Linked DNA regions of Homo sapiens: region 1 is linked to region 2. Evidence: fine-mapped expression QTL. A gene starts in region 2. The other region holds a variant in brackets. All regions are shown on one strand. Distances are from middle to middle. Region 1 overlaps NEMP1 (nuclear envelope integral membrane protein 1). Region 2 holds the start of STAT6 (signal transducer and activator of transcription 6).

Region 1 (16,105 bases), 53 kb after region 2:
GCTCCACCTTCCGGGTTCATGCCATTCTCCTGCCTCAGCCTCCCGAGTAGCTGGGACTACAGGCACCTGCCACCACGTGCAGCTAATTTTTTGTATTTTTAGTAGAGACGGGTTTCACCGTGTTAGCCAGGATGGTCTCGATCTCCTGACCTCATGATCTGCCTGCCTCAGCCTCCCAAAGTGCTGGGATTACAGGCGTGAGCCACTGCGCCCAGCCTATTAGTTCATTTTCATACTGTTGATAAAGATACCCAAGACTGGATAATTTATAAAGAAAAAGAAGTTTAATGGACTCACAGTTCCTGGTGGCTGGGGAGGCCTCATAATCATGGCAGAATGCAAAAGGCACATCTTACATGGCAGCAGGCAAGAGAGAATGAGAACCAAGTGAAAGTGGAAACCCCTTATAAAACCATCAGATCTCATGAGACTTATTCACTACCATGAGAACAGTATGAGGGCAACTGCCCCCATGATTCAATTATCTCCCACCAGTTCCCTCCTACAACACGTGGGAATGATGGGAGCTACAATTCAAGATGAGATTTGGGTGGGGACACAGCCAAACCATATTAGACAGTGAACTTCATCGATAAATGTCATGGGTGTTCTAACAACTCAACCAATTGGTTATTCCCGTCTCCCTTCTTCTTGGGCCTCCCTATTCCCTGAGAAACAGCAATATTGAAACTAGGCCAATTAATAACCCTAGAGTAGATTGTGAGTCTTCAACTGAAAGGAAGAGTCATACATCTCTCTGATTATGCTTAGTGAGAACAGCAAAAGCCAAGACAGACCGAAAGCTAGACCTCTTGTCCTGAGCAGTTAGCCAAGTTGTGAGTGCAAAGGGAAAGTTCTTGAAGGAAATTAAAAGTGCTACTCCAGGGAACACACAAGTGATAAGAAAGTGAAACAGCCTTATTGCTGATATGGAGAGAGTTTTAGTTGGCTGTTGAGAAGATTAAACCAGATACAACTCTTTTTTTGTTTGTTTGTTTGTTTTTTTGAGACAGAGTCTTGCTCTCTTGCCCAGGCTGGAGTGCAGTGGCGTGATCTCGGCTCACTGCAAGCTCCGCCTCCCAGGTTCATGCCATTCTCCTGCCTCAGCCTCCCTAGTAGCTGGGACTATAGGCGCCTGCCACCACACCCAGCTAATTTTTTTGTATTTTTAGTAGAGACAGGGTTTCACCGTGTTAACCAGGATGGTCTCGATCTCCGGACCTCGTGATCCTCCCATCTCAGCCTCCCAAAGTGCTGGGATTACAGGCTTGAGCCACCATGCCCGGCCAGATACAACTTTTTTAAAGCTAAAGGCTGATCCAGAGCAAGACCCTAACTGTCTTCAATTCTGTGAAGGGTGAGAGGTGAGGAAGCCTCAGAAGAAAAGTTTACAGCTAGTGAAGGTTCTTGGTTCATGAGATTTAAGGAAAGAAGCTGTCTTATTACATAAGTGCAAGGTAGGCTAGGCGTGGTGGCTCAGGCCTGTAGTCCCAGCACTTTGGGAGGCTGAGGCGGGCAGATCACTTGAGCCCAGGGAGTTCGAGACCAGCCTGAGCAACATGGTGAAACCCTGCCTTTACAAAAAATACAAAAAAGTCATGGTACCAGCTACTCGGGAGGCTGAGGTGGGAGAATCACCTGGGCCCAGTAGATCAAGGCTGCAGTGAGCCATGATGACGCCATCGCACCCCAGCTTGGGCAACAGAGTGAGACTTTGTCTCAAAAAAAAAAAAAAAAAAGATGAACCAAGCACTGATATAGAAGCTGTAGCAAGTTATTCAGAAGATCTAGCTAACATCATTGTTGAAAGTGGCTACAATTAAAGAGCTCCTCAGTGTAGACAAAATAGCCTTATACTAGAAGAAGATGCCATTGAGGACTTTGATAGCGAGAGAGAAGTCAGTGCCTAGCTTCAAAGGAGGGGTGATCCTCTTGTTAAGGGTTAATGCTGTTGGAGGATTGACTCCAGTTTTGAAAGAAGTTGTGGTAAAATGCTATCAGACAGTATTGCATGCTTTAGAGAAATCTTCATTGAAAGGATGAGTCAATGCAGCAAACTTCATTATATTTTAAGAAATTGCCACAGCCACTCCAGCCTTCAGAAACCACTGCCTTCATCAGTCAACAGCCATCAACATGGAAGTGAGACCCTCCACCAGCAAAAAAAATGATGACTCACTGAAGGCGTAGATGATCTTTAGCAGGTTTTAGCAAAGTATTTTTAATTAAGGAATATATATTTTTAAGACATAATGCTGTTGTACACTTAATATACTATAATATAGTGTAAACAATTTTTATATGCAGTGGGAAACCAAAAAATTTGTGTGACTTACTTACTGCAATTGCAATATTTGGTTTATTGCAGTGGTCTGGAACCAAATTTGAAATGTCTCTGATGCTTGTACTGCTCTAATCTTGTACCTTTTAAAATCTTTCGGCTGGGTTAGTTGTCCTAGTTTCAACAGTGCTATGTATGAAATATATACATATGGTCATGAAATACATTTTTTTCCTGCAGAAGTCAAATTTTCTACTACTCTACTGGGATGACTGTGGGAATTGTGGCCTCTCTGCTAATCATCATTTTTATACTATCTAAGTTTATGCCTAAGGTAAGTATCAGAATCTTCATGTGCAGCTAGAATGAATTTGGATAGCTGAAGGACTGTTTTCCTGGGTAATCTTAGAAAACTGAAAATGTGTATTGATGGCTGATGAGTCAATATCCTACTCTCCTTGATTCAGAAAGGTACTTTCCACGATGAAACTTGGAGCCTGATTACAAATTCTTTCTTTTTATATAAAATCCTGTGCTCAGAGGGGGATTAAAGTCTGCTTCCTGTTTTTTAATTATATAGCCAGGCTTTTAAGTTATTTAGCATTTCATCTTCCCAGTGTTCGTTGCAGACTGTACCATTTTAAGTATAAAGGACATCTTTTTAAGAGAAGTGTTTTTTGTGCATTTTGAGTAGGTTGAATTTTTTAAAAAAAAAATCATAGTTCCATTTTGCTTCTTTTATGTATGGAAAGCCTGTTGTAACTTTTTGCTTTCACTTCTACTCTCTGTCTTAGAAAAGTCCCATTTACGTCATCCTGGTGGGAGGCTGGTCTTTTTCTCTGTACCTCATTCAACTAGTTTTTAAAAATTTACAAGAGATCTGGAGGTGTTACTGGCAGTATCTTTTAAGTAAGTGTTGTCGGTTTTGCTTTCCTTTTGTACGTTTATAGGCTGTTTCAGTTAATTTGATCATGAAAAGATTTTGCCTGCTTATGGGATTTAATAGTTCATGTCATTTTTTTAAACTTTTAAAAATCATAGTTTTTCACTTATTTCTAATCCCTCTACAATTATCACCTTCTCTTAAATTAGAATGGTGCTGTTAAGGCGAAGATGTTCATTTATTGGTATTTATAAATATACCTTTCTTTACACAATAAACATCTTTCTGAAAAGCTGTAAGTTGACTTTATTAATGGAATCATATTTTAAATATACTTGGGGACCTTAAGTAAAAGACTCCGCAGTTAATTTTTTTCTCCTTCATTTCTGAATGAACTGCTGTAGATTTTATTTACAAAGTAAAAATCCTTGGTCATATAGATAGTAACCTTTGAGTTATCCTTTGAAGGGTGATTAATCTGGATTTCTGTATATTGGTTTTTTAAAATAGTCTATTTCAGGGTTGTTCAACATGTACCTTTAATGTTCTGTTTGAACCAAATAAATTTGGGACAGCAGAAAGGATAGAAACTTAGAGAAATATATTCTAAGAAAAAAGTGTGAAAAATTAAGTAAAAATCTGATTTCCTAGTTCAATTGGTGCTATATAGTAAATTAACTACTGCTTCCCACACAAATTATTTTTACCAAGTATAGATGAAAAAGAATGTCTTCTGATAACTCTTCTCATAGGTTATGTCCTCACAGTTGGATTCATGAGTTTTGCAGTATGTTACAAGTATGGGCCCTTGGAGAATGAACGAAGTATCAACCTGCTGACCTGGACCTTGCAGCTGATGGGCCTGTGTTTCATGTATTCTGGCATCCAGATACCACATATTGCCCTTGCCATTATCATCATTGCTCTTTGTACTAAGAACCTGGAACACCCTATTCAGTGGCTGTACATCACCTGCAGGTGACTGAAAGGCAATGTAACTTAATATTGACAGGTACATTGTGGGATGCAGTTGCAGCAAGAGGATACAGAGGTGTTGACCTGGGAGCTTCTTTGTTAATGAAAAGTCATTGTATTGTACTTCCACTTTTGTTCCTTCCCGAGTCTATTTTTTTTTTTTTACTTTCTATAGGAATTTTTATATTTTTATTCTAGTCATTTTATATAAAATGTCTAGTAAAATGTCATGTGTTCCTGTTACCACAAGGTGGTGCAAATTCTATCACTGTTTTTTTGAGATGGAGTCTCGCTCTGTCGCCCAGGCTGGAGTGCAGTGGCGTGATCTCGGCTCACTGCAACCTCCACCTCCCGGGTTCAAACGATTCTTCTGCCTCAGCCTCCTGAGTAGCTGGGATTACAGGCATGCGCCACCACATTCAGCTAATTTTTATATTTTTAGTAGGGTTCCCCATGTTGACCAGGCTGGTCTTGAACTCCTGACCTCAAATGTCAGGAGTTCATAAAGTGCTGAGGAGCTCCCAAAGTGCTTGGATTACAAAGTGCTGGGATTACAGACATGAGCCACTGCGCCCCGCCACAAATTGTATCGCTTTTATACCGTATGCTCATTGAGGTCTCCTGGGTTCAGATTTTTTTTTTGAGACAGAGTCTCTCTCTGTCACCCAGGCTGGAGCACAATGGCGTGATCTCGGCTCACTGCAGCCTCCACCTCCCGGGTTCAAGTGATTCTTCTGCCTCAGCCTCCCGAATAGTTGGGACTACGGGTGGGCGCCACTATGCCTGGCTAATTTTTGTATTTTTAATAGAGATGTGGTTTCACCATGTTGGCCAGGGTGGTCTCAAACTCCTGACCTCAGGTGATTTGCCCACCTCAGCCCCACAAAGTGCTAGGATTATAGGCGTGAGCCACCTCACCCAGCCCATTTCAGACTATTTCTCAGTGGCTTTCAGATTGCTCTGGAGGTCTTAGTCTTATTTTAAGATGTAATTCATAGCATGTTTTGTCACCTTGCATAATAAATATGGAATGTTACTAGGTCCTGAAGTTGTCTATTATAGATAGTCAAGGTGATGCTTTCAGTTTGGGAAACCAAGTTACTGGACCACAATCTTTTTTTTTTGAGATGGAGTCTTGCTCTGTCACCAGGCTGGAGTGCAGTGGTGCTATCTCAGCTCACCGCAACCTCTGCCTCCTGGGTTTAAGCGATTCTCCTGCCTCAGCCTCCTGAGTAGCTGGGGTTACAGGTACATGCCACCATGCCCAGCTAATTTTTGCATTTTTATAGTAGAGATGGCGTTTCACTATGTTGGCCAGGATAGTCTCAATCTTGACCTTGTGATCTGCCCACCTTGGCCTCCCAAAGTGCTGGGATTACAGGTGTGAGCCACCTTGCCCGGCGTTTTTTTTTGTTTTTTTTTTTTTTTGAGATGGAGTTTTGCTCTTGTTGCCCAGGCTGGAGTGCAATGGCATGATCTCGGCTCACTGCAACCTCCGCCTCCCTGGTTCAAGCGATTGTCCTGCCTCAGCCTCCCGAATAGCTGGGATTACAGGTATGCACCACCATGCCTGGCTAATTTTGTATTTTTAGTAGAGATGGGGTTCCTCTGTGTTGGTCAGGTTGATCTCCAACTCCTGACCTCAGGTGATCTGCCTGCCTTGGCCTCCCAAAGTGCTGGGATTATAGGCGTGAGCCACTGTGCCTGGCTAGAACCACAGTCTTATACCATGATTTTCTGTTATTTTCCCATCTACTAGAAAATAAGTAAGTATTTTATCATTTATTGGAAAATAAAGTGAGTTTGTTCACATTAGTGAATAATATTGACTATAATTTTTTACTTTCTATAGGCATTTTTATATTTTTATTCTAGTCATTTTATATAAAATAAAAAGGTCTAGTAAAATGTCATGTGTTCCTGTTACCACAAGGTGGTGCAAATTATATCACTTTTTTTTTGAGATGGAGTCTCGCTCTGTCGCCTATGAATTGTCACTCATAGTCTAATGTATCAGGAGTTCATTATAACTAAAGATGTCCATGGAATTTTTAGGAGTGATGACTCTTAATGTTCAGGCTGTCTGCTGTATTCTTGGCCCACTGAAGGGAGCTAGAAGTAAGGATGGATATAGATTACTGATTAATGATTCATAATGTTATTTTGGTGAGCACAGAAAGGTGTGTAAGGGAGCAGAAAAGCCTGTTCCCCCTCGTCTCCTGACAGAAGAAGAATATCGGATACAAGGAGAGGTAGAAACCCGAAAGGCTTTAGAGGAGCTCCGAGAATTTTGTAACAGTCCAGACTGCTCTGCTTGGAAGACTGTTTCTCGAATCCAGTCTCCAAAAAGGTAAACTCGGCCAGATATACCAAGCATCTATCAGGGTAATTGTGACCTTGAGTTCTACCAGAGATCATACTTCTAGAGAATCGTGCACTTGTGACCTTTGTTTTCCTGTTAATCTTCAAGTAGTCAAGAGAAGGGTGGATATATAATCACACATTAAGCAGTAACCTGTTTCCTCAGGGAACTATCTACTCTAGCTTTGATTGTAGCATTAAGATGGGAAGACTCCAGTACCATATTAAGTTTCCCTTCTGAAAGTTTTGCATTGCTGTCTGAGTTGGTAGGGTTCCCCCCTACCCACTTTTTAGTTGGGGGCAAATGTACCAATGAGTATGTGAAGCTTCAATTTGGAATCATGATGGCATAAAGTTTACAGGGCCATAAACGTGAATAACTGTAATGCCCCTTAATCTTCTCTTATCAGGATTACAGATGACTAAAGGAACCTTGGCACTTTCATAATTAGAAAGGATAGGCAAGTGCTTATTAAGCAGGATGGAGTTGCAGGGGTATTAGCCTATGATCCCAGCTTTCCTTTTCTCCTTAACTTCATGCTTTAGTCTACTTACCTGCCAGAGTAAGGACAAGGATGTTGGCTAGACTTAATATAATTTGAGTTGCGAGCATATCGAGGGCTTTAATTTGTTCTTATTTTGAAAGAAGACCAGAAAGGACAGAAGGATATTTCTAACGAGTATTATCTTCTCTTTTCCAGATTTGCTGACTTTGTGGAAGGCTCTTCCCACCTCACGCCAAATGAAGTTTCTGTCCATGAGCAGGAGTATGGATTAGGGAGCATTATTGCCCAGGATGAAATCTATGAGGAAGCATCCTCTGAGGAGGAGGACTCATATTCTCGGTGTCCTGCTATCACACAGAACAACTTTCTAACCTAGGTAGTGGTCAGTTATCTTTACGTGGACTGGCTTGGTGCCTTGGTCCATGTTGCATGTGTTGTGCAATTGCTTTCAACCCTTTGAAACAGAGTGAGATAGATAGGGTAGAAATTCTCCTACTGAAATAAGAGGCCTAAAAAGGCCTCCCTTTGGAAATGGGAGGTCTCTATGGGATCCCTGAGGAAGGAGAGTGGATAAAGTAGTGAATGCTGGGTAGTTCACTTCCCATTGGTTAAGCTAACAGCCCACTTTTATGTTTCCAGAGAAATTGGATGGCCACAGCTAGCATGGCATTCTAGCTCCTTCTTGAAAGTTGATTCAATCATGGCATTTCTGTCACTGGCTGGCTCTCCAAAGTAAGAACTGTTGTTAAGTGCAGGAATGCTTTTAGACTATAGGCTGCAACTTCCAGAGAGAAATCCACAAATCTGAGCCTCCTTCACTCCAGCTTTTATTTCAGTGACTTTAGAATAATTATTGATTTAACTGTTTTGGGAGGAAAATAGATTTTTATTGTTTTGTTTTTTAAATGAATGTCTTTTAAAAAACATAACAAACTCATGTTCCAGAACCAGCAAGTGCTCCAGAGTGACACACCCCCTAGGCCCCTACATATTTATTAATATGGATTATCCAT[T/G]AAAGCCCCAGGAGCTGTTGTTTTAAGCTTTGATTTAGTTCTCATACATATGATAGAAAGTCCTATTTGCCTTTAGGAACATGCCTGTAGGCTCTTCTGCAGGTGAGATGTACTGGGCTTTTTATTATATTCAACTTTCAATTCCATCTTAAAAAACATTTGTATTCTTCTCTTCCCATTCTTCCTTACCCTGCCTTTGCCCTTTCAGGAAGGGTCAGTTCCCTTACCTGTGAACTATGTATGTTCAGAGTAGCATTATTCCTGCTAGCTAGGAGAAGTCATCTTGTTTAGGGGATTTGGATGCTTTTTATACGTTCTCCATTTTCCTGTCATTGGGTCATGTTATCTTTGAGTTGCTATGAAATCAGGAAACTGTCTCCTTTTCCTTTCCCTTCCTTTGTCTACATGCTCTGTCCATTCCTTTCAGCCTTTTCTCACCACCCATACTCCCCCAAATCTGGGTAATTTTTAAGCCTTGAAACTATGTAGTTTCTTGATACACAATTTGTAGTTATGCAGCAGCCACAATTTGCATTGCCAGGAAATAGGCTCCAGGTTATCTTCATGCCTCTGGGTGCTCATTCAGCTGTCAAGTTTCCATGAACTTACACTTATTTATGATTGCGTTTCTGACCTGAGATGTATGCTGCCTGTTATTGCAGTAGCATTAGTTTCAGATTCTTTTGCCATTGCAAAGTACCCCTTATAAACCAGCAATGTCATCTGTGAGGAAGCAAATTCTCAAGTGTCTGTCATTTACTTGGTTCTTTTTCTTTGTGGTCTTCACCCTTATACCCTGGAAAAGTCTGTAATTACCTTAGCCAGGAAGATAGATGGTCATGGCAAGCGCACAGCACCAGACTTACTGGCTCACCAAGATGATGGAAAAAGGCAGATGATTTTTTAAAAAGCCGTAATGACTCCTTTAGACCAGCCATTTAGCGTGGTAATTTTGAAAGGCCTAGCTCCATTGCAGACTTCCAAAGGGTCAGCTCTGAGACTGCCCTCCAGGTGGGCAGTTGATTATTTCCACCAGTGTTTTCCAGAGCCTTAAACTGTCCTAAGTGACAACTACCTCAGTTGGCAGGAAAGAGACATATAGTAGAAAGTGAAAAATGAGCAGTATTTGGGCAGATGCTATGGGTTACAGTTGAAGGGTAAAAGGAACTTTACATTGGGAAACCTTTATACCCTTGTGAATTATGTACATGGTAAAATGTTCTCTCTCTACAAAGAACTATTAAAACTTCTGAAATATACTATTTTTTACCTTATTTATAGAAATTGAGACCTAGCATATTTAAGCATAAGTTTATTTTAAAAAATAATTCAACTCGTGCAAGTGGTCTCAGGATTCTCTGGAGATTTTGGTGCCTCCCCTACTTAGGGAGGTGATAGCTTGCCTATAAGGGTGACTTTTCCTGATCATGTCTTTATTTCAATGAGAAAGCACTGTGAAATTGTGAAAGATTCTCCTCTTTCTCTGTTTAATAAACCCCCATGAAATATAGTTTCCATCTCTAGACCAGTTTTTTTTCCACCGTGTTTAGACTTGAGGTGAATAAAATCAAACTGTTTTTTACTCCCTATCTGGTAGTTGGAGACCTGAGCTGTAGGCAGTGGAGATGGCAATTGGTTCTGCAGCCTGAGAGTTGCTCTCACACAGTGAAGGACGGTGCTGCTCTGGTGTGCTGTGTGTCCTTGCCCTGCCTGCCTGTGGCTCTGCCCAGATGCTTCAGATCCTCTGTGTTCCGGAGATTGCTTGACTTCAACCTTCTTTAGGAGCTGCTCTTGTCTCCCTCTTGGCCACTTAGTTTGCTGGCTCAGTCACTACTTGAAGACCCCATTTAATTTTTCTCTGGCAGTTATAGCTCTTGTGATTTCAGTACAGTCTCATCTCTCAGACCAATCTCATCAAGAAGGATTGAAGGGATAACTATGAGGTAAGCTGGACATTGGAGCCGTGTTTGCTGCCACGTCAGCGTCTTGCTGGGTGAATGTCAAGCCATAAATGGGCTCCAGGGCTCTGGATCTCATCAGCATTGGAAATCTATTGCCTCTCATCAGTCTGACCAAATTATGTAGAGCATTAATGTAGAGACTCCCATTAATGGGAATACAAGAGGCAGCTGGCATAAAACATTTCTTTCACTTTCCTTTCCCACTCAGATTGCTTCAAGAGACCAACAGAACACAGGGATCAAAAACAAGGAAAATTTAGCAACTTCATTACCTTCTAATAAGTAATTCCTGTTAGCCACTGCATCCCACCAAAACTAGTTTATTTTTCCCCTCAAATTCATGATTTTTACGTCTGTTACAAAGGGAATTTTGCTGATAGCTCTTTGGGTCCCACTGTTCCATTTTATGCTAATAGATTCCATTCTAGGGCCCAGCCGTCTCTTGACTGATGGTGTTCCCTTTAACCCTTGGCATGTATAATAGAATTTTGGTGAATGAAAGAACCCAAATAGGCCAGATAGTCCCCCCAGGCCCTGATATCCATAAAAGGCTTGGGAATGCATTATGTAATTGTCCTTAGTCTTTTTGTTGTTTTAGAAAAAAAAAACAAGATGGGCTCAGATGGATGCCTACGTAAAAATGGTTCCTAGCTGTGTACTCATAACTTTTCTTTGAATTGAGTAGTGAAAGGAAGGAGGAGGAAAGGAAATTAAATGTCCTTCTAGTATTCTCTGGACTCAAGTCTGACATATGAGATAATAACCTATATTGAAATGCCAAGAATTGTATCTGAAACAAGAGAACAGTTTGACACATTTATCATGCCTTCATATTACATATTAACTGAAACCAATTAATAAACATATGAAATATCCATTGCACAAGGCAAAGGCACCTAAACCTTTTGTTTCTTTTTCTACATAGCAGAAATTGATTTTTTTTTTATTTTTTTAGGGGAACCTATATAATTATGACCCAGTGATGTCTTTTGGTGACTTAAGCTTATGAATTCAGGTTACAATTGAGTTGATTCTAGATGGTTACTACCTTGAAAAGGATGTTGGTGCCTTATGTGACACGAGCCAGAGCCTGCTGGGAATAAACAAAGCAGATTCATGCCAACACCAACTCGTAGCTTTAGTGGCAGATGGGAGTGGTCACAGACTCCCAAAATGTGGGGCTTTGGATTTCCACACCATCCCACGTGTGTGTCATCTTCCTCTTTCACACTCTTGATGATAATTTGAAAATGGTGAAATCACCTCTGAATTTGCCTATAGCATGAGCACATTCTTATGACAACATAACAAATAGTTCATAATGTGAATATTAGAAACTGTTACAGCCTGCAGTTACCATAATTTTCCATGTTTGTGGAATTGATATTGAAATAGCAGGGCTAAGGAATTACTGGCAAGTTTTAGCCTGTGGGTAATACCTTAGGGTTATTTAAATATTTGTAATTTTATTTAAATGTTCATGAATGTTTGAAAGGAACAAAATTATCAGGGATGGCTCTTTGCCATGGGTCTTATTTTCACCCTCTTTTCTGTAAGAAAAAAGAACAATGTCTTAATGTATTTTTAAAGTTTTTGGTATAGTTTCTAATTCCAATTTTAATAAAAGTTTTATAGATATATTGTGGTCTTTCTTAATGAACATAATATTTTCTTGTTTGGATTTCTTGTTTTCAGGTAATCAGCAATTTACTCCTCAGTTTCATCTTTCTAATGAGATGGTTTTGCATGCCACTGATTTCCCTTTTTTTCTTAGCCACCCCTTCCTGTCCCGAGTCTGTACTGGTCTACTTTCATCCTTGGACTGGATGATTTCCCAGGATGCAAAATCTCTAAGGGGTATTCTTGCAGGAGCAGCAGGTTGTACTACCATGCTGTCTCATAGAAAAGCAAAATACAGGTTATTCTTGGCCCAAGGAACTACTCTGATTATATTTTAGTTCTTTTTTTTTTTTTATGGCATAAAGTATCTCTTTTGTTTGTCCATTGGGATGGGGAGAAGACCTATGGCTCCAGCTATGGGATCCCTACCAAGAGCTCTGTATAGGGTGGAAGAGAGAGTAGGGCTGTAGTGAGCCTTATGTGTATTGAATAAAAACTTAAATTATGTCTAGGCCCAGCTTCTACCATAGGAGTCTGGTACCTTTCATTTTATGTATTGGCTACCTTCTTTGCTCTGGGAATCCTTTGTAATATTCATATTAACTCTGTACCTATGTTTTTTCATCTCATTAATTAATTATTATTATTATTATTTGAGACAGTCTCTTCCTGTTGCCCAGGCTGGAGTGCAGTGGCATGATCTCGGCTCACTGCAATCTCTGCTTCCCGGGTTCAAGTGATTCTCCTGCCTCAGCCTCCCGAGTAGCTGGATTACAGGCACCTGCCACCACACCCTGATAATTTTTGTAGTTTTAGTAGAGATGGGGTTTCACCACGTTGGCCAGGCTGGTCTTGAACTCCTGATCTCAAATGATCTGCCCGCCTTGGCCTCCCAAAGTGCTGGGATTACAGGCATGAGCCACTGCACCCTGCCTATTTATTATCATTATTATTTGTTTTGTTTTGTTTTTTGAGATGGAGTTTCACTCTGTCACCCAGGCTGGAGTGCAGAGGCGGGATCTTGGCTCACTGTAACCTCCGCCTCCTGGGTTAAAGCAATTCTCCCTGCCTCAGTCTCCTTAGTAGCTGGGATTACAGGCCCCCACCACCATGCCCGGCTTTTTGTATTTTTTAAGTAGAGATGGGGTTTCACCATGTTGGCCATGCTGGTCTTGAACTCCTGACCTCAGGTGATCTGCCCACCTCAGCCTCCCAAAGTTCATCTCAGTTATTTGGACTACATGGAAATCCATTGTCTATTTTTTTTAAGACAGAAAGTTGGCAAAGTAGGAAGAAAACAGGATGTAGAACATAAGTAAATTTATGTTAATGTACACTAATGACATCTTTTCTCCTCTTCCTTCCATAACTACCACTAGGTAAATAAGAGACATAGGTGATCGTTAATGGTTGAACTAATAAAAACTTAAAGCATAATTGCTAGATGTACATCATAGAGTTATAGTGAGGATAAAAAAACATGGTAAGTGATGAGCATTTTTTCATGTGTAAGTTTTGGCTGCATAAATGTCTTCTTTTGAGAAGTGTCTGTTCATATCTTTCGCCCACTCTTTGATGGGGTTGTTTGTTTTTTTCTTGTTAATTTGTTGGAGTTCATTGTAGATTCTGGATATTAGCCCTTTGTCAGATGAGTAGATTGCAAGAATTTTCTCCCATTCTGTAGGTTGCCTGTTCACTCGGATGGTAGTTTCTTTTGCTGTGCAGAAGCTCTTTAGTTTTATTCGATCCCATTTGTCAATTTTGGCTTTTGTTGCCATTGCTTTTGGTGTTTTAGACATGAAGTCCTTGCCCATGCCTATGTCCTGAATGGTATTGCCTAGGTTTTATTCTAGGGTTTTTATGGTTTTAGGTCTAACATTTAAGTCTTTAATCCCTCCTGGCCACCAGAGAAATACAAATCAAAACCACAATGAGATACCATCTCACACCAGTTAGAATGGCGATCATTAACAAGTCAGGAAACAGCAGGTGCTGGAGAGGATGTGGAGAAATAGGAACACTTTTACACCGTTGATGGGACTGTAAACTAGTTCAACCATTGTGGAAGTCAGTGTGGCGATTCCTCAGGGATCTAGAACTAGAAATACCATTTGACCCAGCAATCCCATTACTGGGTATATACCCAAAGGATTATAAATCATGCTGCTATAAAGACACATGCACATGTATGTTTATTGCGGCACTATACACAATAGCAAAGACTTGGAATCAACCCAAATGTCCAACAATGATAGACTGGATTAAGAAAATGTGACACATATACACCATGGAATACTATGCAGCCATAAAAAATGATGAGTTTATGTCCTTTGTAGGGACATGGATGAAGCTGGAAACCATCATTCTCAGCGAACGATCGCAAGGACAAAAAACCAAACACTGCATGTTCTCACTGATAGGTGGGAATTGAACAATGAGAACACATGGACACAGGAAGGGGAACATCACACATTGGGGCCTGTTGTGGGATGTGGGGAGGGGGGAGGGATAGCATTTGGAGATATACCTAATGTTAAATGATGAGTTACTGGGTGCACCACACCAACATGGCACATGTATACATATGTAACCTGCATGTTGTGCACATGTACCCTAGAATTTAAAGTATAATTTAAAAAAAAACATGGTAAGTTGGGTAAAGCAGTTCTCCAACTTTAAAGTGCATGGGAATCACCTGGGGATCTTGTTAAAATGCAGATTCTGATTCACTAAATCTTCAGTGGTGCCCAAGAATCTGCATTTATTTTTTTTTTTAAGAGACAGGATCTTGCTCTGTTGCCCAGGCTGGAGTGGAGTGCAGTGGCACACTCATAGCTCAGTGCAGCCTGGAACTCTTGGGTTCAAGCAGACCTCCCAATTCAGCCTTCCAAAGATTCTGGATTTCTGGTAAGCTCCCAGTTGATCAGATGGTGCTGGTCTGTGGACCTCATTTTGAATAGCAATGATGTAAAGCACTTAGCTTGTTGCCTGGCACATCTTAGTCCAGTCTAAGTATGATAAATGTTATTAGTACCAGATAGTTTATGAGAGCCGAGAAGACCCTCTACCACCAAATGTCTTCCTCACCATATCTGAAAATAGCTGCCTTTTTATTGTGTAACATCTTTTTAAAAGTTAGTACCTGTGGGAAGATTAATGAGTGAATTGGCTTAATCAGATTGCTGCCTTCCCAATTTGTCAGAAATCAGCACCAAATGATTTGGAATTTTTTTTTTTTTTTTTTGAGACGGAGTTTTGCTCTTGTTGTCCAGGCTGGAGTACAATGGCGTGATCTCGGCTCACTGCAACCTCCACCACCCGGGTTCAAGCGATTCTCCTGCCTTAGTCTCCTGAGTAGCTGGGATTACAGGCACCCGCCACCATGCCCGGGCTAATCTTTTTTGTATTTTTAGTAGAGACGGGGTTTCACCATGTTGGCCAGGCTGGTTTCGAGCTCTTGGCCTGAAGTGATCGGCCCGGCTCAGCCTCTCAAAGTGTTAGGATTACAGGCGTGAGCCACTGCACCCAGCCTAGAATTTTTTTTTTTTTTTTGCCAGTTTTATTGAAGTACGATTTACATAACAATATAATTTGCCAGTTTTAAGTGTACAAATTTGCTGAGTTTTGACAAATGGAGACAGTTGTATAACCACTACCACAATCAGGATATAGACCATTTCTGTAACCCCAAAAAGTTCCCTCTTGCCCCTTCCATGGTCTAGAAATGTTAATGGGGGAAAAAGGAAGGTGATTTAGGAGTCAAAGTAGAGGAAGACTAATACGCTCTGGTTGCTTCAGTTTTGCCTAGAAAGCAGGAGATTAGAAAATCCCAGCTGACTTGGATGTGTATTTCATATCTTGTTAATTTAGGCTGACCCACTGGCTCCAGTTTGCCTGGGACTTTCCTAGTTTTAACACTCAAATTCCCATGTCCAGAGAACCCCACTGTGTCCCACAGGCGGATCAGTACAGTTGGTTGCCCTAGCTGTGATGTTCATGTCATTGTTCTTACACCTGAGAGTGCCATCTCATTTTAGAGTCACTTTTCTCGTGAGTAAGCACATAGTAGGCACTCAGTTGACTGAATGGGTGGACATGCAGGTAAACCCCAGATGGCTGCAGATTCCTGGCCTAGAGAACATGAGACTTGGGTTTTGGTGCCAGCTCTGCCAGGTTTGCAGTGGTGTGACCCTGGAAAAGTGGTTTTCTCACTCTAGATCTGTTTCCTCCACTGGTAAATAGGTGATATTTGTCACTTCTGCCTCTAGGACATGGATACTGCTCCACCTACACATAGCATTATGTTTTGATGTCACTTCCACTCAGCTTTCTCTCTTTTCCTTGCCCCCCTCCACCTTCAAATATATGTAGTAGATCAATAAATTATGTAAAGGCAGGTTGATAATAGAACTGCTGATGTGCCAGGCTTACGCAGAGTGCTTCTGTGAGAGCCATAGAGTTTGGACCTTGCACCAAGCAGCCATAGCTGAGAGTTGGAGAATCAA
Region 2 (16,105 bases):
ATAAATAAATAAATAAAATTTAAAAATGATCTAGATATGGAGGTGCATTCCTGCAGTCCTAGCTACTCAAAAGGCTGAGGCAGGAGGATTGCTTGAGCCTAGAAGGTTGAGGCTGCAGTGAGCAGTGATTGTGCCACTGTGCTCCAGCCTGGGCAACAGAGTGAGACCCTGTCTCAAAAATAAAAAGAAAAAAGAAAAAGAAAAGAACTCAACATCTTTAGTTATTAAGAAAATGCAAATTATGCCAGGCACGGTGGCTCACGCCTGTAATCCCAGCACTTTGGGAGGACGAGGCAGGAGGATCACAAGGTCAAGAGATCTAGACCATCCTGGCTAACATGGTGAAACCCTGTCTCTACTAAAAATACAAAAAATTAGCTGGGCGTGGTGGCGGGCGCCTGTGGTCCCAGCTACTCGGGAGGCTGAGGCAGAAGAATGGCATGAACCCAGGAGGTGGAGCTTGCGGTGAGCCGAGATCGTGCCACTGCACTCCAGCCTGGGTGACAGAGCAAGACTCCGTCTCAAAAAAAAAAAAAAAAAAAAGGAAATTATATCCATAGTGTGATACCTCTCAATACTCACCAAAATGATTAAACTTTAAAAAACTGACAATACCAAATGTTAGTGGGAATACAGAGCAACTGGAACTCTCATACATCATTAGTGGGAATGTAAAATGTACTATCAATTTGGAACAATATGTAGCAGTTTCTTATAAAACTACACATACACCTACCCTGTGACTCAGCAATTCTATTCCTAGTTATTTATCCAAGAGAAATGAAAGCATATGTTCACACACAGACTTGAACACAGAATATTCATAGCAGTTTTCTTCACAGTAGCCAAAAGCTGGCTATAGCTCAGGTATCCTTCATTTGAAAAAGGATAAACAAACTGTGGTATAGATCCACCATGGGACACTACTCAGCAAGAAAAATGAAAGAACTATGGATACATGCAGCAACATGGATGAACCTCAAAACATGTTGCGTAAAATAAGCCAGACATAAAACTACATCCTATATTACTCTACTTAAAAAAAAAAATCAGAACAGTGGCTTCCCCTGTGGGTTGGGGTGAGGGTAATGATCCACATCTTGATAGAAGTTTGGGTATTACAAAGCAACCACCTGGTAGGGCAGAGATTTGAACACAGGTGGTCTGCCAGCGGCCAAGGTTTTAATCACCATACTACATAGCCTTGCCCAGGCTGTGGAGCCTCAGATGTGGATGAGATCACACAGAAAGAGTGTCCCGTGAAGACAGGAGACTGAGAGGGAGGACGCAGAGAGGTAGGCCGAAGACCAAGAAAGGAATCATGAAAAGTAGTTGGGGGAGAACTTACTCAAGAATGGCTAACAGTGTTGAGTACTGCTGAAAGGCCCAGCAAGAGAAAGACAGGAATGTGCCATCATTCAAGGCCCCTAGGAGGGTGTATGTGACATGGGCCAGGACAGTTTCATGACTGGTGGGGGCAGCAGCCAGCTGGCAGTGTAATGAGGAAGTAAGGAAGAGAAGACTGAATATGAATAATTTTCCCAAGATGCTTGGCTGCACAGGGGAAGGGAGAGAGGCAAGACAGTAATTAGAGAACTGAGATTTCCTTGCAGAGGCACAATCCTGACCACAGCTGACTCCATCCAGAGCTGCTTGACTTTGCCCATTCACCAGGATGGCTAACTTGTCCTTCTGTGAAGTAAAGGTCGGTTGGCCACAGTAAGCCTCTGACAGCCTGAGGGCTCCATTTGAAGCCTTGAGATCAGCTGACTCCACCATTGCTCACATCCTGTCATCCTTGGCAGGCCTTGATTGGCATCCATCCTTCTCCACTAAGTCCAGTCCTTCCTCCTCCTAACACTGTTATACTGCTCTCCACCCATCTCCTTGCTTGAAGCCTGGGGCCACCCCTGGCTCACATTATCCTGGCCCCTCTTGGCTTGTCTGGAACCTGATCCTTCCTTGAGAACATTCCTCCTTTAATGAGGTATCGCTTATTCTCTCAAGTGTATAGGGCGGGTGGTAGTGGGAGGATGGGCAGGCAGCCCACCCTGGAGTCTCCATTTCCTGTGGCGATATAGCTTCACCATGGTCTTAGTTAGGGATGCATTTAGCAGCAAGTAATGGAAGACCCAATTAAAGCAGGCTCAACAATGAGGAGTTTTATAGCAGGTCCAGGGCTGGTTGATTCATCAAAGGTTTTCCACCTCTTCACACTCATACTTTATCCTCATTGGTTGGTGGTATCTCCCCTCCCAGTTGCAACGTGGTTGCAGCTATTCCAATCCTAAAAGTGAACATGGCACTGAAGAAGAACAAAATCTTTCCCAGAAGCCCCCTAAGTCCTATTGGCCAGGATTGGGTCACTGGCCAAGGGAATAGAAATACTGTGATTGGCTATGCCAATTAGATTCACCCCGTGAATACATAGGAGGGGGACACCTGTGTGAAATCCAGACTTTGCTAGCAAGGGAGAAAAGCTTGGCTGCTGAATAGGCACCACCAGTGCTTGCCTCAGTAGTCACATCAAATTCCTCTTCCTTTAAGAGCCAACTATTTCACCTTCCATTGGGATGTGCAACATAGGGCTTAAGGGCAACATTTCTGGTGCCAAACTAACTGGATTTGAATCCCAGCTCTCTCACCTTAGCCTTGAGCAAGTTGCTGAGTTTTCCATGCCAGTTTCCTCATTTGTAAAATGAGGGTTATCAGCACTATCCAATAGAATTTTCTGTGATGATGGAAATGCCCCGTGTCTGTTTTAATATAGTAGCCACAAGTCATACATGGCTATTGCACATTTGAAATGTGGCTGATACATCAGAGGCATTGAATTTTAAAATTGAAATAGCCACAAGTGGTTAGTAGCTACTGTAGTGGGCACATAGTTCTAGCTCATAGTATTATTGTAGGATAAAAAGTACAGTGCTTCAATTTTAGAGTAAGAATTGAAGTAACACATAAAGCCCCACTAAGTGTTAGTTATTATTTTTGCTGTTATCCACTGATGTCCTGGTCACTTTATCCGTGAAGTCTTTGTTTATTTTATTTTATTTTAATTTTTTTGAGACAGGCTCTCACTCTGTTGCCCAGGCTGGAGTGCAGTGGTGCAATTATGGCTCACTGCAGCCTTGACATCCTGGGCTCAGGGATCCTCCCACCTCAGCCTCCCCAGTGGCTGGAACTATAGGCATGCACCACCACACCAGGCTAATTTTTGTATTTTTTCGAGAGACGGCATTTCACCATGTTGCCCAGGCTGGTCTCAAACTCCTGGCCTCAAGCAGTCTGCCCACCTCAGCCTCCCAGAGTGCTGGGATTACAGGCATGAGCCACCACGCCTGGCCTTCTGTGAAGACTTTAGCAGCTGACTGTCTTCCTGTCCACCTCAAGTTTTCCACAAACCCAGATGGTTTCAGTGCTCCGGCAGGTAGTCCAGCCAACACCCTGGCCTCTTGGTTCCTTGTTCTCTTTGACTCCAATGACTTACCTCTGTGTTGCTGTAGCCACTCACTCTCATAGCCACCACCTTTATCACACCCTTGCAGGAGAGCTGGACTGAAATCTCACTCCCTAGATTCTGACCGCAACATCCTAGCCTTACAGCTCTTCTTTCCCTTGCCCCCGGGAAGCCTGGTCTTTAAGTCTGTTGAGACTTCCAGTTTCTTGCCTTTCTTTCCTTTGACACTGGCCCCTCATGTCTTCACTTTTCTTCCTAACCAGTCTCCATTCCACAATGCTTCACCTCTGCTCTTCAACTGTGTCGTCTCCCTCTCTGTTGTTATTAACCTTCTGAATGGATCTCCTGGCTTCAGAACTTATCTTTTAAATCCATCCTCCACATTGCAGCTAGGCTGATCCCTCTACTAAATCTTATCATATGACTCACCTGTCTAAATCTTCTAATGCTCCGCATTGCCCATTACTACCCATTCCCAGAAGGTACCATGCTCCCACAGGTATCCATGCCTTTGCATATGCTAGACCTTCTTCCTGCTTTAATGCTTTCCTTGTTCTTTGCCTGAATAATTCTTATGTCCCTTCAAGATTCATTTCAGGCTGGGCACGGTGGCTCACGCCTGTAATCCCGAAACTTTGGGAGGTCGAGGCAGGAAGATCACTTGAGTTCAGGAGTTTGAGAGCCTGGACAACATATTGAGACCCTGTTCTATGAGAGAGAGAGAGAGAGGAGAGAGAGAGAGAGGAGAGAGAGAAGGATTCGAACATGCTTTATGCTGAAAGTATAGAGCTGTCATAACTACAGAGCAGGAGGGTGGAGATTTGAAGAATGAAGGGGATAATAAATTGAACAAGTGCCTGAAGAGGCAGAAGGGAGGGGCCTTGAGCACAGGTGTTTTCTAATTAAATGATGAGTTGGTATGAAGATGGATGGAAACTTGAGGAGAATAGTGAAGGCCTGGGAGATAGAGCTGGCTAGGGGCCCTCAGCAGCTTCCCACAATTCTTTTGTGACCTCCTCCTCCTTTCCCTCATCCTCCACAAATCACAGTCCACTATTCAGTGTTCTTGAACTGTCTTGTCTGTGAAATGTACTGAGCTCCAGCAATCAATCCATCAATCAGTTTAGTCCTTACGTAGGAGAGTATGTATAAAACATTTAGCCCAGCACCAAGTACATGGGAGACACTCAGTTAATTGCAGCCCTTCATATCTTTACCACCAAGAATGCATGTTGTTTTTTCTAGCTGCTGCACAGCAGTGTGTACAGTATGATATGAGTCCTTGCCCTCCTTGAACTTGTGTTATTGTTGAGGAAGAAAGATGTACCCACAAAATAATTAAAAAGCAATACAAAGGAATATGTAGTGGCCACCAGTACCCAAATTGTGCTTCTGTTATTATTATTATTATTATTATTTTTGAGACAAACCCTCACTCTGTTGCTGGAGTGCAGTGGTGTGATCCTGGCTCACTGTAACCTCCACCTCCTGGGTTTAAGCAATTCTCGTGCCTCAGCCTCCCAAGTAGCTGGGACTACAGGGCAGTGCCACCACACCTGGCTAATTTTTGTATTTTTAGAGACGGGGTTTCACCATGTTGGCCAAGCTGATCTCGAACTCCTTACCTCAGGTGATCTGCCCACCTTGGCCTCCCAAAGTGCTGGGATTACAGGCGTGAGCCACCATGCATGGCTGTGCTTTTTTTTTTTTTCCCCACAACCAGCACTAAAAAGTATGTTTTATCATGACTTAGAATTCAGATACATATAGGGCCGGGAGTGGTGGCTCATGGCTGTAATCCCAGCACTTTGGGAGGCTGAGGTGGGTGGATCACCTGAGGCCAAGAGTTTGAGAGCAGCCTGACCAATATGGTGTCTCTACTAAAAATACAAAAATTAGCTGGGTGTCATGGCATGTGCCTGTAGTCCCAGCTACTGGGGAAGCTGAGACAGGAGAATTGCTTGAACCCAGGAGGCAGAAGTTGCAGTGAGCCGAGATCCCGCCACTGTACTCCAGCCTGGGCGACAGAGGGAGACTCCATCTCAAATAAAAAAAAAAAAAAAAGAATTCAGATACATATATAAAGCTGAAACAAAAGTTTAATTAAACAATACTTATCCTTACTTCGCTTGATGCCTTCTGATATTTTCTGTACTGTTCTATTCTACTTCAGTTTTATTTTTTAATTTTATTCACTTTATTTTTTATTTTTTGAGATGGAGTCTCACTCTGTTGCCCAGGCTGGAGTGCAGGGGTGTAATCTCAGCTCACTGCAGCCTCTGCCTCCCGGATTCCAGTGATTTTCCTGCTTCAGCTTCCCAGGTAGCTGGGATTGCAGGCACATGCCACTGTGCCCAGATAATTTTTTGTATTTTTTAGTAGAGACGGGGCTTCACCATGTTGGCCAGGCTGGTCTTGAACTCCTAACCTCAGATGATCCGCACACCTCGGCCTCCCAAAGTGCTAGGATTACAGGCATGAGCCTCTGCGCCTGGCCTTTACTTCAGTTTCAAAGAGTGAAGGTCAAGACACTGTTTTTTTTTATGTTTTGTTTTTAATTTTGTTTTAAATTTTTTTTGTAGAGATGGGATCTTGCTATGTTGCCCAGGCTGGTCTCGAACTCCTGGCCTCCAGCAATCCTCCTGCCTCAGCCTCCCAGAGTATTGGGATTACAGGTGTGAGCCATTGTGCTTGATCAAGATGCTGTTATGGGCTGAGTTGTGTTCCTCAAAAATTCTCTTGAAGTCCTAATCTCAAGTACTTCAGGACGTGACCTTATTTTGAAGGACCCCCTTATAGGGTCTTTACAGAGGTAATTAAGTTAAAATGAGGCCATTAGGATGGGGCCTAATGCAATATGACTGGTATCCTTGAAAAAAGGGGAAACTTGGAGACTGACTTGCATACAAAGAGAACAGTGTGTGAACGTGAAAATGGCCAAGGAGGGAGGCCTGGAATAGAGCCTTCCTTCACATCCCTGAGAAGGAATCAATCAATCCTGCTCAGGTTAACCTTGATCTTGGACTTCTAGCCTCCAGCATCTTGAGAGATTTCTGTTGTTTAAGTCATGCAATATGTAGTACTTTGTTACAGCAGCCCTAGCAAACTGATACACTCACCAAATCGATTTTGTGACTCACTATTGGGTTGTAACCAGCAGTACATAGACATAAAGTTATTTTTTCCTTACGCTTTATCTTGTGCAATCGTGTGTGTGTGTGTGTGTGTGTGTGTGTGTGTGTGTGTGTGTGTGACGGAGTCTTGTTCTGTCACCAGGCTGGAGTGCAGTGGCTTGATCTCGGCTCACTATAATCTCTGCCTTCCAGATTCAAGTGATTTCCCTGCCTCAGCCTCCTGAGTAGCTGGGACTACAGGCGCGCACCACCACGCCCGACTAATTTTTTGTATTTTTAGTAGAGACGGGGTTTCACCATGTTGGCCAGGATGGTCTCAATCTCCTGACCTTGTGATCTGCCTGCCTCAGCCTCCCAAAGTGCTGGGATTACAGGCGTGAGCCTCTCTTGTGCAATCTTTACCACCACTCAATGGGATGTCAAGGTCCAGGGGAGGGTGATACAGTCACCCTCACAGTCATGCAGGTGCAGATGTCATTAATGAAGGTCTGACAGACCCTGCAATTGTACAATCTGAAGATGAGTATCTCCTTAAATTTCATACTCTAGGCACTTTACCCTAGCCTAGACTCTGTTGAAGTAGGTATAACTATTATTCTCATTTGAGGGATTGACACCTGATTGTGAACCTCCTAAATGGAGTCATACCCAAGCCAGATTTGCCTCTAAATTCTGTTTTTTCCCCTTACATCACAGTGTTCCCATTGGTATAGTCAGTTACAGAGGGAGTAATATATACTATTTTTCTACCAGTACTTGCTCCTCGCCTTCCTACCCCCTAAAAGGAGCCAAAGTCAGAGATCACATTTACTCTTTTCCCTCCTCCTCTCCAAGTCTTTGGGGACTTGTAGCTCTGACACCCTTAGATGGTGAAACCTGGCTTCACCTACTGTCTGTGGATGTCTGCAGGCAGAGTGGGCACTCGGGAGCACATACAAAGCACGTGTGCCGTGAACACGTATGTGCACACACCTTGATCCTAGCATGGCTTGTTGGACAAGCCAATGGACAGAGTCCCTGCCTGCCACCTCCACCCCTGCTCTCCCTTCTCTTCCATTCACTGTCCTGCAGACACAGCAAACACATACGCACATACACCCTCAATATCCTTTTGGCAGTAACATGACCCCCAAATCTGGGGACTTCTATGTAGGATGGAGACCCTTCTCCTTTCCTCATACCTGGTTTATTATGAACCATAAAAATAGTGCCTGACAGTTACTGTGTGTCAGGCATTGTTCTAAGCCTTCAGATGTTTTACTGCATTTTATTCTCACATTATGGGTTAAGACTTATTTGCTCCATTTTACAGATGACGAGAATGAATCACAGAGTAAATTGCTCAGGGTTGTGTGGTTAGCAGCATTAGCAGGATTTGAACCCAAGCAGCCTGTATCCACAGTCCAGTCTTTTAACTGCTATATTTTGCTGTGTTCAAACCCTCTGCTGCCTGGCTGGGTCCACACACGTGCACTCATGTACAGACCTGCGGGGTAGCAAGGGATGGAGGAGGAGGAGCTGGTTCTGGAAATCAATTCAGGCACCAGGGGGCAGCATAGGCCTAGCTTTGGCCCCTCAGCCCAGCCCCTGCTATGGGAGGGAGGAGGGGAGTAGAAACTTCCTCCCACCGCCCCTCAGACACCACCTCTTCCACACACCGGGGCTCTCAGGTGTCCGGGAGTAAAGGCCTCTCTGGATCCCTTGGTCTCCTCCAGCTCCTCCCCCAGCAAAAACTGCAGAACCCTCCACTAGTTATGTTGATGACTCAGAAGTTGAGCAAGACTGTGTGTGTGTGTGTGTGTGTGTGTGTGTGTGTGTGTGTGTGGTGTTGTGATTGCAATGGGCTCTGTTTGTGAGCCTGCCTGCACGTGTGTGTGTGTGTGTGTGTGTGTGTGTGTGTAGTCTTGTGGTCAGGGAAGTTGTGCATGTGTGTGTTTGTTTCTTGGCGTGTCTCAGTGTTTACCCCAGAAACATATAGGAACTTGGCAGATAGGAACACAGCAGATTCGTATTCAAACTTGCCCCTTGTGAATCTGCAGGCAGCAGCTCCGGCTTGTGCTGGTTCCCACCACAGTCTCAGGAGGGGTGCCCTGTGAGGAGAGAGCAAAGACCAGCTTCAGTCCAAGGGACTCCTAGAGTCTTCCAGAATTCTGAGCTGAGGGTTCCCCTCCCCCACTCCCTCCCGTCAGTGGTCACGAGACCGACCTCTAAGGCGTTCCCTGCCGGAAGGGAGGGGGACCTAGGAGTTGGCTGGCATCGAGCTCCCTGGCGGCTTTTTAGGGTCCTCCACTGGAGGGAGCGCAGAGTCCAGAGGGATTTACTTTTCCTGAGGCCCTGGGGAGCCCAGTCCCTTGTGGGTCCAAACCCCAGCCCTTGGCAGAGTTTGAGTTTGGGAGCCAGGCAGTTAGGGGTGGCAAATCTCTGTTTGATATTGGGTGACTTTCTGGAGAAAAGCTGATGCTTTTGAGGGGGACAGAGTAAGTGGGGGTCAGCCTCCCCCCAAGCCTGGCTCCAAGGCCTGGACCCCAGTCCTGATCCCCCACGTGTTCCCCCACTCGGCACAGGAGGCACACATATTCACCCCACTTTCTTCCTCTTCCTCCTCCAGCCCACTTTCTCTTCTCTGTGTCGTCAGAGCTCCAGGGAGGGACCTGGGTAGAAGGAGAAGCCGGAAACAGCGGGCTGGGGCAGCCACTGCTTACACTGAAGAGGGAGGACGGGAGAGGAGTGTGTGTGTGTGTGTGTGTGTGTGTGTGTATGTATGTGTGTGCTTTATCTTATTTTTCTTTTTGGTGGTGGTGGTGGAAGGGGGGAGGTGCTAGCAGGGCCAGCCTTGAACTCGCTGGACAGAGCTACAGACCTATGGGGCCTGGAAGTGCCCGCTGAGAAAGGGAGAAGACAGCAGAGGGGTTGCCGAGGTGAGGGGTTGCCTCCGAGGTGGGTGCGGGGGCCTCTATGAGTGCATGGGGGTGGATTCGTGGGGGGAGCTCTCGGGATCCTCCCCTGGCTGGGTGGATGGTCCCCAAGAGATGGTTTCAGCTAGTGTTGGTGGCTGGTGGCACTGGGTTTTAGCAGTTTCGAACTCCTGGAGGAATCTGGGAGGGTCCAGGCCTCAGTACTCCCCTCCCCCATGGGTCACGTTTTCACAGCCTCACCCCTGCACCCCCAGGGCCATGGAAAGTCAGGGAAAGGAGGTGAAGGAGTGCCCCTCTGCCCTGAGTCGGGGGAAGTGGCCGCCCCTCCCTGGAAGGTTGATGCCAGAGGGCAGTGGATCCTTGTTAAACCCCTATCCTGCCCTCCACTAAAGGTTCCTGTTCAAGGGTGTGGCTGGGGCGTGAGCAAGCCCCAGATGTAGACCTCATGGTGGCCCAGACGAGGGGGAATTTCCCCCTCAAAACTGCTCCACGCTTGGCTGCTGTAGACGCTGAGATTTCCCAGCGGCGGCGCCGAGTTAACCCTCCTCGTGCTGAACTGGCTCCACCTCCCCGCCTGCCCCCACCGCCACATTCACGCATTGGGCAACTCAGAGAAGCTGTTTTAACTTTCGATCCTGTGGTCCCACAATCAGAGGACTCGGGCAGATAGGGGTTGAGATAAGCGAGTTTAGGCCACCAAGCGGGCGGACGAGGATCCCAGACCTTGCGCTTCCCTTCTGAGTTTGGGAGGTAACACTGGCCCCGCCCCTCACGCCGTGGCTCCTCCCTCCCTTCCCCTTCAAGGGGCTGAAGACAAAAGGTGCCCCTGTCCTGGTCAAGCCAATCGACCCAGCCTTGTTATGGGTTGGGGTGGGGAGAAATGTGTCCTCCTGATGGCTGGGGAAGAAGAGGGGTTGGATATTTCTAGCCAGGGCCATGCCAGGAGGCTGGTCACTCTGCAAGGGGATGCAGAGGAAAGCGGTGCCCACTCACTCCAGAGGACCTTTCTCTCTTGGGCTAGAGAAAGGCCTATTGGAGGAACCTGAGCAGGAGGGGTAAGGATTCTGCCTTGAGGAGAAAAGAGCTGGGGTAAGTGGGCACTGGAGGAAAGAGGGGCATGAAGGTCTTGGAGCAGAAACGTCCAGAGAAGGGACCTCTCCATTTTCCATCCCTCTGAGAGGCCTGGGAGAGGTGAGAGGCTGAACGTGCAACAGGAGGACTTGGGGTTACTGGGTTTGGGGAGACCTGGGGAGTTGTCATCCCATCCTCTCCCTCATCTCTGGGAGAGGGATATTATGAGAAACGTGAACTGAGAGGCCCCTGGGAAACCACTGGTTACCCAGTCCTCCCTGAACCTGGAAATGGGGATGCAACCCCCTCTTCTACTTCCCTGTCCCCTCCTCTCCTTTCTACCTGTTTTCGTCTCTCATCTTTGCCTTCTAGCCCTCCAGCTTCCTCTCTCTTCTAGGCTCTTTCCTCCTAGCTTACTAAACCCGCCTTTTTTCCAGTCTCTTCCATCCTCTTCCTTAGTTCTCTCTACTTTCCTTTTCCACCTCTCCTCCTTCAAGTCTCCTCCCACCTTCCCCCACTTCTTAGGATGATCAGATTTGCCCCTGGAAGGGATCCTAACAACACAGTGCGATGGTTAATCCCCACTCAGATTCAAAGCCTGCTTTCCAAACTCACTTACTGAGTGGCCTTGGGCAGAGTAGAGAAACTCCTTAAGCCTCAGTTTCTTCATCTATAAAATGGGATATTATATATTTTAAAAAGTGTCGTGAGGCCTGAAGGAGATAATACACTGAGTGTAATGCCTCATACACAGTAAGTGCTTAACAAATAGTAGCTGTTATTACTCTCCCATCCTCTTCATCATCTAGCCTTGTGGTTTTCATTTTTATTTTATTTCATTTATTTATTTATTTATTTTGAGGCAGAGTCTCTCTCTGTCGCCCAGGCTGGAGTGCAGTGGCTCGATCTCTGCTCACTGCAAGCTCCGCCCCCCAGGTTCACGCCATTCTGTCACCTCAGCCTCCCCAGTAGCTGGGACTACAGGCGCTCGCCACCACGCCCTGCTAATTTTGTTTTTGTATTTTTAGTAGAGATGGGGTTTCACTGTGTTAGCCAGGATGGTCTTGATCTCCTGACCTCGTGATCTGCCCGCCTCGGCCTCCCAAAGCGCTGGGATTACAGGCATGAGCCACTGCGCCTGGCCGAGCCTTGTGGTTTTCAAATTATCTCATGGAGTCCTAGAATTTTGAGAGGTTTGTCTAGGGATGCCTTTGGCGTCAGGAGGTGGGGAGAGGGAAGTAGAAGCAGTCGAGTTTCAGGCTTTCCATGCTTGCTTTCAACAGGGCATCTTCGGTTTCGTACCTTTTATGTAATTGAGATTCCACAGATTAAAAGCTGACATTGCCTACCGCTTTAAAAAGTTTGGAAAGTTTTCCACTCATCTAACACTCATATTTTATAGATGAGAAGATCGAAGCCCACAAAGGGAAGGCTCTTTGCCCACAGAACCAGAGCCAGGTCTAGAGCTGCAACTAAATCCTCTGCCACTCTAAGAGAGCTCTCGCTCTACTGCCCTGTCTCCCTTTGCCTCCCCATCCCTCTGGCTACAGCTCAGCTCTTCCCACCCCTGTGTCTATCACTGAAGGAGTTACCCCCATCTCAGGCATTGACTCAGGATGCCCCTGGTTTAAGGTGGTCTGGCCATGAGTGGTGGTGGGGACGGTCCCTAGGAGGGCTATCTATGGGAGGTCCCTGGCTGCCCCAGGAGATAGGCCAAGTTTCTTGGGCACCCCTCAGAGTGGCCTTATTTTTCTCCTCCAGGCAACCTCCAAGTCCCAGATCATGTCTCTGTGGGGTCTGGTCTCCAAGATGCCCCCAGAAAAAGTGCAGCGGCTCTATGTCGACTTTCCCCAACACCTGCGGCATCTTCTGGGTGACTGGCTGGAGAGCCAGCCCTGGTGAGTCCTGGCTGCTCCCTGCTGGTCCCCCAAGTCTTCCCTAACTCATCTTCCTTCTCCTTAGATTTTTCTCCCCTCACCCATGGATTCAGAACTTGAGACCTGTTATTCCATGTGTAGTGACCTAGATTTAGCAGGGAGTCTGTGCCCCATCAAGACCAGGCTATGAATGTTGACAGATGGAGACCCCATCTCTTAGGAGGCTGAGCCGAAGAGGAGGGGGGTTTGGGCTGGGACAAAGGCACTTCTCATAACAGCTAGAAGACTGGGAAACAAGGCGCATGGGTGAAAGCTACAGAGGGCCTAGATGGAGAATAAGGAGCGAGAAAGGAACTGCTGAGCTTTTGGCTGTGGGGTAAAGGGTCAGGAGAGCTGAGGAAGCCCTGGCCTGAGGTAGCCTCATCCTGATCTTCCTGCAGGGAGTTCCTGGTCGGCTCCGACGCCTTCTGCTGCAACTTGGCTAGTGCCCTACTTTCAGACACTGTCCAGCACCTTCAGGCCTCGGTGGGAGAGCAGGGGGAGGGGAGCACCATCTTGCAACACATCAGCACCCTTGAGGTGGGGCAGGAGGGGAGGGGACAAGGCTGGGTGGGGCTGAGGTTGAACTGGGTTGAGCATTGGGCCCTGGAAGAAAATTGGTTGGATGCTGGAAGCAAATTGGTGTTCCTGTGGTTAACTGCTAGCTAGCAGGCAAATTAGATTTTAAAAGCATGCAAATGCACAAAAACTTCTGGAGTCTACAGTTGTGCTTCCTTATAGTATATGTGTGAATGCAGGCCTGGGGATTGGAGGGATTGAAGGACATGGGTAAGAGCAAAGCTCACTGTTTACCACCCTCATTTCTGTAGAGCATATATCAGAGGGACCCCCTGAAGCTGGTGGCCACTTTCAGACAAATACTTCAAGGAGAGAAAAAAGCTGTTATGGAACAGGTATTGTGATATTCCACCTCCCACCCCAACTCAATCCCCTGAGACTTTGGCCTGAGCCATGACAAACTAGAAAGAATTTGAACCTCAGTAAAGGCTCAGTGTTCTAGGCCCAGGAATGACCAAAGGAGGTTCCTAGGGTCAGAGTGAACCCCAAGTCAAGCTCAGGGAATCTTTCTATGAGGGACTGAAGGTAAGAGGCCGGGGAGAACAGAGCAAGGGATAAGGAGCTGATTCTGCTAGGAGCAAGGTCTTATCTCCACGATATTCCAAAAGGTCAGGAAGAACTGCCAAAGGGGAGAGGGGAACAAGAAAACGCTATCTGCAGAGCAGAGAGTGGAGGCCAGGTATAGAGGGATGAGCAGAGTGTTTCACTTCTTGGCATCTGTCCTTCCTGTGTAGTTCCGCCACTTGCCAATGCCTTTCCACTGGAAGCAGGAAGAACTCAAGTTTAAGACAGGCTTGCGGAGGCTGCAGCACCGAGTAGGGGAGATCCACCTTCTCCGAGAAGCCCTGCAGAAGGGGGCTGAGGCTGGCCAAGGTGGGGGCCAGGGTGGTTCTGGGGAGTGTGTAGGAGTGGTTGCCTCTTGGATCTCAACCTTATCTGAACCTCTAATCTGTCTGCACCCTTGATTTCTGCCCCCAACCCTCAGTGTCTCTGCACAGCTTGATAGAAACTCCTGCTAATGGGACTGGGCCAAGTGAGGTGAGTAATGGGCTGACAGGTGGAGACCTTGGTCAAAGTGCAGCTGGAGGGATGGAAGCTAGACCTCAGAAAGACACAGGCTGAAGTAGGGCAAGGGAATGCCAGAGGAGTGAGAAAAAGAGCCGTATCCCAGGAGCTGGGTGTGGAGGCAGCGTGAGGCCCTGGCTCAGGCCCCTCTCTGCCCATAGGCCCTGGCCATGCTACTGCAGGAGACCACTGGAGAGCTAGAGGCAGCCAAAGCCCTAGTGCTGAAGAGGATCCAGATTTGGAAACGGCAGCAGCAGCTGGCAGGGAATGGCGCACCGTTTGAGGAGAGCCTGGCCCCACTCCAGGAGAGGTTGGGCTAGGGCTGATGGGGAAGAGGGGGCAAGCTGGGGGTGGGCAGCTGACCCTGCTGAAGGCCCTACAGGTGAGAGAAAGAAGCCAGGCGGGAGGGCCTTGGAGTGGACCAAGATGCATAAAAGCCAGTTCCAGCGGGGCTGTGCACACTGTCGTTCAGGTCGCATCCTGTACAAGTGGGCCTAGTGGAGGGGCACAAGCGGGGACTCATCCAACCCAGGCTTCTCTCCTCAAGCCCCATGCCTAGAGGAATAGGAGGGCTTTTCCATTTGGTTTATTGGGTGGGAACACTTTCCAATTTGCCACAAAGCACTGTAAGTGGTGGCAGTTGTCCTGGGTGCAAGAGCCGTCGGGGGAGAGGCAGCTGGGTTTCCACAGGGGGTGTAGGCACTGAGAATGAACCTCCCACCCAGACCCTAGGCCAACAGATCACAGAACCCCCTTCAGCCCAGGTGCCTTGCAGCCACACCCACTACCCACCCCACTTCTCCACACATGATAGCCTTTCTCCCTGGGTATAGGGGAAGGGGGTCTGGGCCGGAGCAAGCAGCCTTAATCCTGTGCCCCCTGACCACTGTCCTGGCCCCAGGTGTGAAAGCCTGGTGGACATTTATTCCCAGCTACAGCAGGAGGTAGGGGCGGCTGGTGGGGAGCTTGAGCCCAAGACCCGGGCATCGCTGACTGGCCGGCTGGATGAAGTCCTGAGAACCCTCGTCACCAGGTATTCCCCGGGAGCTCCCAGTCTGGCCTAGAACAGACCTCGGGAAGAAAAGAAGGGGGCTAGAGCTGTGGGGAGGGCACCAGCAGGGACCTAGCCCCCAACTCCCCTTGTGTCCTCCTCACTCCCAGTTGCTTCCTGGTGGAGAAGCAGCCCCCCCAGGTACTGAAGACTCAGACCAAGTTCCAGGCTGGAGTTCGATTCCTGTTGGGCTTGAGGTTCCTGGGGGCCCCAGCCAAGCCTCCGCTGGTCAGGGCCGACATGGTGACAGAGAAGCAGGCGCGGGAGCTGAGTGTGCCTCAGGGTCCTGGGGCTGGAGCGTAAGCTGGGATTGGACCTGGGGTTGGAGAAGGGCTGTTAGGGTGATGGAGGCAGCCTGGAGGGCTGGCACTGAAAAGAGCAAGGGATGGGGAGGGAGGGCCATGGGATGTGGAGACCCTGAATGGTCAAGGCAGAGGAAAGGGAGGGACCCATTTAGGGCTGGAATGGGGTGGGGGCATCATGATTTGGCCAAGATGGGGACTCCTCCCTTAAGAACCCAAACAGAGACATGGAGATTTAGGGCTGGTGACAGTGGGTAGTCTACACTCACCCATGCACTCGCCACACCTGACGACAGTGAGATGAGCTCGTTCACACTCTGACCTCCCCTGGCAGAGAAAGCACTGGAGAAATCATCAACAACACTGTGCCCTTGGAGAACAGCATTCCTGGGAACTGCTGCTCTGCCCTGTTCAAGAACCTGGTGAGGGGCTTTGGGGTGCAGTGAGGGGGGCACCACTAGGAGACTGTGGGACTCTCCTTGGAGAGGATGTCAGGAAGCCCAGGAGGAGCGGTCTCTGTCCTCATGACCTCGCCCTTGCTCTCCCTCACCCCACCCACAGCTTCTCAAGAAGATCAAGCGGTGTGAGCGGAAGGGCACTGAGTCTGTCACA

Evidence for each region. PIP is the estimated chance that this variant, and not a neighbour inherited with it, causes the effect.
Region 1: its variant is the best candidate, but not a certain one, in a credible set for the expression of STAT6 in whole blood (TOPMed, PIP 0.57).

Annotation. Positions count from the first base shown.
Region 1 is chr12:57,051,156-57,067,260 of GRCh38, reverse strand. NEMP1 (nuclear envelope integral membrane protein 1) reads left to right here. Exons shown (of 9, transcript NM_001130963.2): 5 at 2,522-2,615; 6 at 3,076-3,190; 7 at 3,917-4,142; 8 at 6,316-6,489; 9 at 7,202-11,618. The coding sequence ends at 7,382. It also overlaps a transcript of MYO1A not described here. Among named protein-coding and RNA genes, the nearest start is that of MYO1A, 9.1 kb to the right of the region's middle. The variant T/G (reference allele first, on the strand shown) is at 8,020.
Region 2 is chr12:57,104,536-57,120,640 of GRCh38, reverse strand. It overlaps STAT6 (signal transducer and activator of transcription 6), which reads left to right and starts at 9,279. Exons shown (of 22, transcript NM_003153.5): 1 at 9,279-9,512; 2 at 12,342-12,478; 3 at 12,898-13,036; 4 at 13,327-13,410; 5 at 13,810-13,948; 6 at 14,061-14,113; 7 at 14,302-14,450; 8 at 15,042-15,173; 9 at 15,302-15,490; 10 at 15,828-15,915; 11 at 16,055-16,105. The coding sequence starts at 12,363. It overlaps LOC124902946 (a long non-coding RNA gene), which reads right to left and starts at 9,919. Exons shown (of 2, transcript XR_007063334.1): 1 at 8,800-9,919; 2 at 7,762-8,684. RefSeq lists enhancers at 1,503-1,692, 8,260-9,205, 9,206-10,153 and a silencer at 8,061-8,220.